Linked DNA regions of Homo sapiens. The protein of the gene in region 1 purifies or fractionates together with the protein of each later gene. This does not show direct contact. Each region holds a gene or a part of one and is shown in the gene's direction. Other genes may lie near its edges.

Region 1 (3,327 bases):
TACAAGGTGAACAGCATTATTCCTTTCAAGGGCAAAGAAACTGAAGCATAGAGGGGTTAAGTAAATCATCTGAGGTCACTCAACTTGTACTTGGTAGAGTGAGAATTTGATCAGAAGCCCTTCGCTTCAGAGCTGTTAGGCTCATGGAACCCCTGCCTCCCATCTCCATTGGTCAGCCAGACCCCAGGTCCCACCACCTCATCCCACCATAGGACTGCCCCCTGCCTGCGTACTCTCTGTGCATAAAACACTACCTGGGAACTCCCTGACCTGCCCAAGTATAGCCATCAGCCTCTTTCCCCTCCTAAGCATTGGCCTCAGAGGTGAGATAAAAGGACAGAAACTCAAGAGACCTTTGAATGGGGGAGAATTTTTCATTTACCCAAAGCCCGGGGGCCTGGAGTGGGAGGCCACTTTGGGGCTGCCCCATCCCCTCTCTAGCTGCAGGGGGCACAGCTCAGGGGAGTGGTGGCCCCATCACCATCGCTTCTGAATGTTCTCCCTCCTGTATACCATTGCTCTCGGCTCAGGATCCTGATGACTTGGATCAAAGTGGCCTGTGGCTGGGGCAACTTCAACCTGGCAATTACTAAAAAATGGTAAAGGCCTAAGAGCAGCCCACAGCACAGTGCGAGGGGGACCTAATCTTAGCAGAAGAATGTCTATACCCTAAGTGACAGACAAAGAATACCAGAATCCACCTCTACTCCTCCCCAGCCGTCAATTGCAAGCTCGCAATCTGTCTGCTCCAGAAAAATCTCCCTGGACTCCCAGGATACAGCCTCTCCTGCTGTGACTCTCTGAGGTCCCTAATGAGCTCCTAGCCTGGATTTGCTGCATACCTGCCTGGCCCCAGCCCTGGAAGGTGAGCTCACTGAGAGCAGGGGTGCTTAGTGAAGTCCCACTCAAGGAGAGGGCTGAGAAGAGCTGGGATGTGGTCCTTGGTGCACCTAGAGTCCCTGCGTGTCCAGACAGGACCGTGGGACAAGCATCCAATGCGTACACCCCCCAGCCATTACTGAGGAGGCTGACCCAAGAGGGCATCTTGCACTGGCCCTGGGAAACTGAGGTCCAGGACTCTTGGGAAAGGCAAAGGGCATTACAGACACAACTGGAGTGAATTTAGGGAAAGCTCAGATGTCTCTTTAGTCTGCTTAAGGTCCTAGCCCTATGGTGTAGGAAACTCTTGACTCCAGAGGAACTTAAGGAACATGCCATAAACACAACCCACAGGCCAGGTCAGGGGCTGAAGAGAGAGTGGAAACAACAAACAGTGCACGCATCTCCCAGGTGGGGCTGATGGTGGCCGCAGTACTGGCAGCCTCATCATCACCACCATTGTCATCACTGCACAGACCCCTGAAACACCTAATTTCTAGTGGAGGAAATTAATGCTTAGAGAGGTTAACACCCTGGCCCAAAGCAGCTGGGATTCAAACCCAATTCTGACTCTAGAGTGGAAGCCCTTAGTCCCTCTTGCTCTGCAACATCTGATCTGAAAGATAGGCAGCACAGCTGTAGGACAGAGTGGCTGGCACAGAGGCCAGGCCAGGCAGGAATGGCTATTCAGAGGGGCCGTGGTTATGCAAGTAGCAAGTGAACCCAGCTGAGAAGCCAAAGATGCAACACCAGTGGGCATGACTGCTCCTGAAAGCAGTCAGTACTGCACTGGGGAGCCTCTATGTAGCCCCTGCTGCTGCATGCCCACGGTCACGGCCAGCAGCTCTCTGGGGTCTGAGGCCAACATTGTTAGCACCGTGTAACTGCAACGACAACAGCAGTTACCCAGTCACAGCTATCCCAGGGACGAGGGTGGAAGGGGCAGTTTTCTACTGCATGAGCCTTTTAAAAGACCCTTCAAAGCCACCTACTTTATAGACAGCTCCTCTTAACTGAAGACTCTCTGTGCCATGCCCCGGTGCTTTGCATTTTCTTGTCCCAGACTCTGATTCCATTTCACAGGATGGGGAAACAAGGCACCGAAGTGGGACCACAACTCAAATCCTGTGTGACTCCGGGAAATCCTGAGCTCTTAACCACTCTGCTTCTCTACCCTGGAGGGAGTAGGGCTGTCAGGCCACCCAAGCCTCAGAGGCAGACCTGGGTCTGACCTGCCTCAGCTGCTGCATGTGCCACCGCTGCCTCTGTCTGGAGGCTGCAGGGCTGTGTGTGGAGTGCTCTTGCAGGGCATCCACCTACACATTCCATTTTGCTACAAGCATTCTAACTGGCAGCAAGACATTTTGAGGCCCACCAGAAAACGTTAGGAAAGCCGTTACCTCCGCCATTCCTTCCTGGCAGCCTGCGCAGTCCAGAGCAGCCACAGTCCCATAGCAGGGTTTCTTCCTTAGGCTGTAGCTTCCTAGGACAGAGGGATGGATTTGTCAACAAAGGGTTGTCCTGGAAACAAATCCAGATTCATGTTCACCCACCAACAACCCTGAAATGCTTGCAAGGCCAGGGACATTCCGGTGGAACCGTCTGCTCTCTATTAACGGGACGGTAGGCAGGTGTGGGCACTGCAAGTCTAAAACATTTGATACTGACCTCTCTCCCCCACTTGCAGATCCTCAACATCTGGGTCCACCCTGCCAGCTTGGATTATAAAGTCCATGCTGGCTATTTGTAGAACAGCAGTTCTCAAAAGCTGCTAGACCTGCTGAATCAAACTGTTGTGTTTTGACAAGCTCTCCAGAATTCTGATGCAGGCTAAAGCTTGAGAACTATTGATGTAGAGGAATAGAAAAGAATATTTCCTCACTGAAAGTCACATACTCTTTTGTAAGGGTCCAAGGCAGAGGCAAGGAAAGCCTCAGGAGGGGTCTGTGTCAGAAAGCACTGGTCACAGGCAGGAGTGACTGGCACACTTTTGGTGTGTTCCAGGGAGACCCCTTGGGACCTCCCAGTCAGCATGGCATGGCATGGGCATGGGCCAGGCTACACTGTGTCTGCATCATACCACATCTCACCCAGCTTGTGTGGGATGTAGCTAACCGTTGTTGGAGACAGCTGCCTGGGCATGCAGCCCGGCTGCAGCTACAGAAGCCCTGCCCCAGGGCTAGCTCAGCTAGGCAGAACATCGGGCCACCTGACAACTGCTGTTTGCAGTAGCTCCACAGGCCCTCAGCCCAGCCCAGCTCCCTGTGCACGTGTGAGGCTGAGACAGGCAAGAGGGCACCTCACTGTAGGGACCTTGGAGCTGGCAGAGCATGGTCTTGGGATTCACATGCAAAATGCAACTTCTCACAGCTCCTCTCAGCACCCTGCAGCCCCCGTTGATCCAGGTCACATCCACAGACTGGGCTCTGCCTGCTCCAGAAGCCCTTG
Region 2 (3,652 bases), on another chromosome or scaffold:
TAGGTAATTGTAGTTTGATGGAAGGTACAGTGTGAAACCCTAGACAGACTAAAGGTTAACTTTGAGGATTTCTTTCTCAGCCAGAGTGGTAATAGTATGCATTTGAGAGGGGAGGAGAGTAGAGTTCTAAGGATGTGGTCTTTGGAGACAGTTTCTTGGGTTCCAGTCCCTGAGCTACCAATTTGTGTCTGGGGTGTTATCCTCTTGATGTCTTAGCATCCCTATCTGTAAATTGGTGAGGATAATGATAACATCTGATAAGGTGGTTGTGAGGATTAAAGGAATTGATACATGTGAAATCCTTAGAACTGTACCTGGCAAAAAGTGTTTGATAAATGATTTTCAGTTATTGTGCCAATATTATTTTAGAGTTGATGTACTTTCTCATTAATGGAACCAAACACTTCTCAAGTTAAAATTACGTGCTTAGGACTGGTAAGTTACAAAAATGGTACCACACGTTTTATCTATTTCAATTTAGAAATGTCTGTTGATTAAATGTGTTCGCTTTAAACTACTGAAACAATGTAGACATTTATAAAATGAAAGCGTATTGATCCCTGTTATCTCATTCGCTACCTTTAACGGTTTGGTGTATATTCTTCCCCAAATTTTCAAATATATTCATATATGAATATGTATTTTTACATACATTTTATAAAAATGGGACCAAGTTATTTGGTTCTAACATGGCTTTTTTTTAAGGTCAATACAAAGATCTGTTTTATTAAAAAATAATTGATATTCCTTTAGGGCTCACTATATGCTTGGTACTCTTCTAAGTCATTATTTTATATAGATACTATAATATCGAGAGATGGAGAGATTAAGTAACAACTAGTTAGTGGTAGAGGAAGGATTTTAATTTGGGTACGTTAGCTTCAAAGTCCTGATCTCCCAGCCAGGGATCATTTTTGGTAAGGCCTGTGAGCTGGAAACGTTAACACTTTTAAAAGAGTTGTAAAACAATACCACCCCACTTCCCTGAAGAACATATAAGGGAGACTAGATACCGCCTGCCAAGCCTAAAATACTTACCATGTGGCCCTTTACAGAGAAAGTTTGCTGCCCCTTGCTCTAAGCCATCCAGCTGTACCTCTTTGGTGTAAGGGGGGTGCATAGTATTCCAGTTTATGAATGTGCATTACGCAGCAAACCAATCTGTTGTGATTGACATTGTTTTCTCTCCTGAAAAGAAGTGAACATCCTTATGTATCTTTGAACATTTGTGTGACAATTTTCTATAGAGTTGGCTCTTTCAAGATTATGAACATTTCTAGTTTTAATAGGTGTTGTCAAGTTATATTAATTTTTAGTTAAAACAACAACTGTATTGAAGTATAATTTACATACAATAAAAAGCACACATTTGAAGGGTATGATTTGAGGAGTTTTGACAAATGTATGCACCTGCACCGCTGCCTGGATCAAGATCTATAATGGTTGCCATCATCTCAGAGTCCTTTCATCCTCTTTTACAGTCATTCTCTCAACTTTTTTTTTTTTCCCTCCAAGATGGAGTCTTGCTCTGTCACCCAGGCTGGAGTGCAATGGCATGATCTCGGCTCACTGCAACCTCCGCCTCCTGGGTTCAAGCAATTCTCCTGCCTCAGTCTCCCGAGTAGCTGGGATTACAGGCGTCTGCCACCACACCCAGCTAATTTTTGTAGTTTTAGGCGAGATCTCAGCTCACTGCAACCTTGACCTCCTGGGCTCAATCGAACCTCTCACCTCAGCCTCCCAAGTAGCTAGGACCACAGGCATGTACCACCATGCCCAGCTAACATTTATTATTAATATTTTTTTGTAGAGATGGGGTTTTCCTGTGTCGCCCAGGATGGTTTCCAACTCCTGGGCTCAAATGATTCTGCCTTGGCCTCCCAAAGTGTTGGGATTACAGGCATGAGCCGCGGCACCTGACTTGTAGTAAACTCTCTGAATTAATATTCCATTGTAGGCATGTGCTACAGTTTTTAAATTCATTTACCCATGGATGGACACATAGGACTGTTGTCAGCTGTTGATAAAGCTGCTATCACCATTTGTATGTCTTTCCTGGACATGTTTTAGTGGTAAATATTGATTTTACTTTGTAAGAAACCGTTAAACTCTTTTCCAAAATAGTTGTACCATTTTAAATTGAAAGTTACAGTTGTAACTGTGCAGGAGTTACAGTTTCTTCACATTTTCATTGACACTTCGTGTTGCCAGTCTTTTAAATTTTGGCCATCAAATGAGTATTAAGTATCTCATTGTGGGTTTGTGTTTCTCAGATGATCAATGATGTTGGAACATCTTTTCATATGCTTATTGGCCATTTGTGTACTTTTTTTGGTTCAAGCCTTTTGTCCCTTTAAAAAATTGGATTGTTTGTCTGGTTGAGTGGCAAGAGGTCTTTATATGTTCTGGGTACATAGTCACATTATCTGTCAGATTGTGTTGCAAATATTTTATTGTTCATTTTTGTTTGATTTTGTGTATTTTTAATACTATAAAGATCAAGTTAAAACTTTAATATGGGAAGCATAATCAGATAAATTATGTGAAACAAATTGTCCTTAATTCACGAGTCATTTAATTAGTGTAACAAAATGTTATGCATTTGCAGAAACTTGTAAACTAAAAGGATATTATTCATATGCTGTTAGGTGTATGGATGATAATTTTTTTTAATTAAACTAGTTTTGAAAATTATTGTATTTAGTAATTCTCTTCATTTTGCATAATTCAAACCTTTTCATTTATTAGTGAGTTAAGCCTTAAATTTTTTCTTCAAAGGATAAATGAGAATATTAAAAGTAAAAAGTGACCTTGATCTTAGAATGGGGTATGTAGAAATGATGATTGCCAAACTTAGTTTCCCTACTTTGACAATCAAGTAAAATTTTTTTTTTTTTTTTTTGAGACGGAGTCTTGCTCTGTCCCCCAGGCTGGAGTGCGGTGGCGCGATCTCGGCTCACTGCAAGCTCTGCCTCCTGGGTTCACGCTGTTCTCCTGCCTAAGCCTCCCGTAAATTTTTTTATTATAGAAATGGATGGCTTTTCAGATTATATATACTTGGTTTCTATACACTATTTTATTTTTGTAAAGTAGCAGTTCTTTTGCTCAACACCTGAATTGCCCCCACAATAAATTTTTAGTTTTTCTTCAATATTCAAGTAATACATAACTTTTCCTTTTCCTGTTTAACAAAGAAAAAAATATATAAAGCAAGCTGTTGGACCTCCATTGGGTGTTGTTTACCACCACTGTAGGTGATCGTGGCATTGTCCACCTCAGTCTTCTCATGGCTGTGGATTCAAGTTAAGAAATTCCTGAAGGTAGCATTCCAGGTAGTCTGTAGAACAGCCCAAACTCTCTGAATTAGTATTATCTCTGATAGGTGTTTTTTTTTTCTTTGCTTTTTTATTTGAGACGGGGTTTTGCTCTGTCACCCAGCCTGGATTTCAGTGGCACAATCTTGGCTTACTGCAACCTCCACCTCCTGGGCTGAAACAATCCTCCCACATCAGTCTCCTGAGTAGCTGGGACCACAGGCACATGCCACCATGCCCAGCTAATTTTTTATATTTTTGTTAGAGACAGAGTTTCACTATGTTGCCCAGGTTGGTCTCAAGATTCCTGAGCTCAAGCGATGTTCCCATCTTGGCCT
Region 3 (3,652 bases), on another chromosome or scaffold:
TAAGTGCTAGGATTAACAGGCGTGAGCCACCACGCTCAGCCTTATATATTTATTTTGAGACAAATTTTAGCTGTGTTGCCCAGGCTTGAGTGCAGTGTCGTGATCACTGCTCATAGCTGTCCCAAACTCCTGGGCTCAAGCAATCTGTCTGCTTCAGCTTCCCAAAGTGTTAGGATTACAGGCGTGAGCTACTGCGCCTGACACTTCATGTTATTATCTTTATTTATTTATTTTATTATTATTGTTTTTTTTTGAGACAGACTTGTCACCCAGGCTGGAGTGCAGTGGCGTGATCTTGGCTCACTGCAAGCTCTGCCTCCTGGGTTCACGCCATTTTCCTGCCTCAGCCTCCCGAGTAGCTGGGACTACAGGCCATCGCCACCATGCCTGGCTAATTTTTTTTTTTTTGTATTTTTAGTAGAGACGGGATTTCACTGTGTTAGCCAGGATGGTCTTGATCGCCTGACCTTGTGATCCGCTCACCTCCTCCTTCCAAAGTGCTGGGATTACAGGCGTGAGCCGCCGCACTCGGCCTATTTATTTATTTATTTATTATATTTTTTGAGACAGAGTCTTGCTCTGTGGCCCAGCCTGGAGTGCAGTGGTATGATCTAAGCTCACTGCAACCTCCGCCTCTCAGGCTCAAGTGATTCTCTGCCTCAGCCTCCAGAGTAGCTGGGATTACAGGCGTGTGCCACCACGCCTGCCTAATTTTTTTTTTTGAAATGGAGTCTCGTTCTGTCGCCCAGGCTGGAGTGCAGTGGCGCAATCTCAGCTTGCTGCAACCTCCGCCGCCCGGGTTCAAGCAATTCTCCTGCTTCAGCTTCCCGAGTAGCTGGGATTACAGGCACCTGCCACCATGCCCGGCTAATTTTTGCATTTTTAGTAGAGACGGGGTTTCTCCATGCTGGCCAGACTGGTCTTGAACTCCCGACCTCAGGTGATCCGCCTGCCTTGGCCTCCCAAAGTGCTGGGATTATAGGCGTGAGCCACCGCGCCCGGCCTGATGCCTGGCTAATTTTTTTTTTTTTTTTTAGTAGAGACGGGTTTCGCCATGTTGGCCTGGCTGGTCTTGAGCTCCTGGCCTCAAGCGATCTGCCTGCCTCAGCTTCCCAAAGTGCTGGGATTACAGGCGTGAGCCACTGCACCCGGCCAACACTCTATGTTAATTATTAACTGACTGAATTCTGGTGTTTGAGCTCTAGGAAAGTATAAATTAGAGATAATTTTTGGTCAGAGACTGGTACAGTAGAGGCTCTGAAAACGTGTGATCTGTGGCATACCTAGAGGTCTGGTGTGAAACAAACGGTATTGCCAGTTTTTGAGAGGAAGTGAGGAGGGTTGCCTTTTCTGGCTCTGAGGGTTTTCTCTCCTGGACTTGCAGTGTGGACAAGAAGGGCCACGTCCACTACTTGATCAAGTGGCGGGACTTACCTTACGATCAGGCTTCTTGGGAGAGTGAGGATGTGGAGATCCAGGATTACGACCTGTTCAAGCAGAGCTATTGGAATCACAGGTGAGTGATTTTGGGTGAGGCATAGAGTTGTTTCTTTTTTTTTTTTTTTGAGATGGAGTCTTGCTCTGTCACCAAGCTGTAGTGCAGTGGCGTGATCTTGACTCACTGCAACCTCCGACTTCCTGGTTCAAACGATTCTCCTGCCTTAGCCTCCTGAGTAGCTGGGATTATTTGCATACGCCACCACACCTAGCTGATTTTTTTTTTTTTTTTTTTTGAGACGAAGTCTTGCTCTTGTCCCCCAGGCTGGAGTGCAATGGTGCGATCTTGGCTCGCTGCAGCCTCCGCCTCCTGGGTTCAAGCAATTCTCCTGCCTCAGTCTCCCGAGTAGCTGAGATTACAGGCGTCTGCCACCATGCCCAGCTAATTTTTGTATTTTTAGTAGAGACGGGGTTTCACCATGTTGACCAGGCTGGTCTCGATCTCCTGACCTCAGGTGATCCGCCCGTCTCAGCCTCCCAAAGTGCTGGCCTCCCAAAATGCTGGGATTACAGGTGTGAGCCACTGTGCCTGGCCAAGTTGTTTCTTCTATAGAAAAGGATTTTGGGCAGCTGTGTGATGTCTTTCTTCTTTAGGGAGTTAATGAGGGGTGAGGAAGGCCGACCAGGCAAGAAGCTCAAGAAGGTGAAGCTTCGGAAGTTGGAGAGGCCTCCAGAAACGCCAACAGTTGATGTGAGTGGGGGTGGAAGGGACTGTAGTTTGTTGGGTAGGACAATGTATCTTTGCTGCAGTCTAATGATGGTACTCTTAAGTAATGAAATGCAGATAGTAACTTTGTAGCTGAGATTACTTCACAAAGTCGGCTTCCCCACTTCTCCACATCTCTATATATCAGAAAGCACTAGGATTACTTTCTTCTTTTGTCATCAGAAAAAAAAAAAGGAGGTATATTTTGAATGATTGAAGAAGTGTTGTCTGGGGGGAGGGGCCACATAGCCTAGCTTTTATGCACTTACATAGGAATCTGGCTTAATTCAGGCTCAGTTCCTCTGGGTTTTGTTTGTACAGTGTAATTTGAGGGTGATTAAAGTTAAAAAGATGAATCTAAGAGGGACATAACGATTATTTACCTGGTGGATCCTGACTAGTAGAATTATTGTATTGGTAGGGAGTCTGTGACGTGCTTTTCCTCAGTGATCTGTAGGATCAAAATCAGGTCTGGTTAAGCCCTGTTTCCTGGAGGACCCTAAACTGAACATGAAATTGCAGTAATCATAGGGGATCTCTTCCCTCCGAATTTTCCGGAGCTCTTCCCCAAGAGGATCCGTGAAGACTAGTGAGGAGGAAGCAGCTGCTCTATTAGGGGAGGAGGGGAGTTCCTTGCCAGCTCTTGACTTCTCTGTTTCATCCTTCAGCCAACAGTGAAGTATGAGCGACAGCCAGAGTACCTGGATGCTACAGGTGGAACCCTGCACCCCTATCAAATGGAGGGCCTGAATTGGTTGCGCTTCTCCTGGGCTCAGGGCACTGACACCATCTTGGCTGATGAGATGGGCCTTGGGAAAACTGTACAGACAGCAGTCTTCCTGTATTCCCTTTACAAGGAGGTAAGGAAATCTGGGGTGGATAGTTTTTTGTGTGGGTGTTTTGTGTTTGAAGCCTTAACTTACACTGAGTAGAGAGATAAGGGAATAAAAAAATTGGTCTCTGACCTTCAAGAACACTGTGGATAATAGATAAACACATGTACACATGTGTTTAGTAGATAGTAGATAAATGTGATAGTGGATAAACACATGTACACAGCGGAAGATTTGAGGGCATGGAGCCCTGGGTAGGATTAGCAGTGGATCCATAGAGTATCAGTTCTAGGGGAATGATTGTGTGTTGAGGGAAGTAGAATTATGAGTAGAATTAGTATGGAAAGGCTTGGCTGGACGCAGTGGCTCATACCTGTAATCCCAGCACTTTGGAAGCCCGAGGTTGGTGGATCACCTGAGGTCAGGAGTTCGAGACCAGCCTGACCAACATGGCGAAACCCCGTCTCTACTAAAAATACAAAATTAGCCGGATGTGGTGGTGCACGCCTGTAATCCCAGCTACTTGGGAGGCTGAGGCAGGAGAATCGCTTGAACCCGGGAGGTGGAGGTTGCAGTGAGCTGAGATTGCGCCATTGCACTCCAGCCTGGGCAACAA

The links.
Region 2: the proteins of MACROH2A1 (region 1) and EZH2 purify together in Homo sapiens (affinity purification with mass spectrometry; 3 studies listed by BioGRID and IntAct, with this or other methods). This does not show direct contact.
Region 3: the proteins of MACROH2A1 (region 1) and CHD4 purify together in Homo sapiens (affinity purification with mass spectrometry; 2 studies listed by BioGRID). This does not show direct contact.

The regions. Positions count from the first base shown.
Region 1 is NC_000005.10:135,336,966-135,340,292, reverse strand, and holds part of MACROH2A1 (core histone macro-H2A.1), read left to right. Parts: intron 1-717; exon of another isoform or gene 718-865; intron 866-2,279; exon of another isoform or gene 2,280-2,362; intron 2,363-3,327. UniProt on the Homo sapiens protein: Variant histone H2A which replaces conventional H2A in a subset of nucleosomes where it represses transcription. Nucleosomes wrap and compact DNA into chromatin, limiting DNA accessibility to the cellular machineries which require DNA as a template.
Region 2 is NC_000007.14:148,874,147-148,877,798, reverse strand, and holds part of EZH2 (histone-lysine N-methyltransferase EZH2), read left to right. Parts: intron 1-3,652. UniProt on the Homo sapiens protein: Polycomb group (PcG) protein. Catalytic subunit of the PRC2/EED-EZH2 complex, which methylates 'Lys-9' (H3K9me) and 'Lys-27' (H3K27me) of histone H3, leading to transcriptional repression of the affected target gene.
Region 3 is NC_000012.12:6,593,870-6,597,521, reverse strand, and holds part of CHD4 (chromodomain-helicase-DNA-binding protein 4), read left to right. Parts: intron 1-1,384; coding exon 1,385-1,516; intron 1,517-2,091; coding exon 2,092-2,188; intron 2,189-2,871; coding exon 2,872-3,063; intron 3,064-3,652. UniProt on the Homo sapiens protein: ATP-dependent chromatin-remodeling factor that binds and distorts nucleosomal DNA. Acts as a component of the histone deacetylase NuRD complex which participates in the remodeling of chromatin.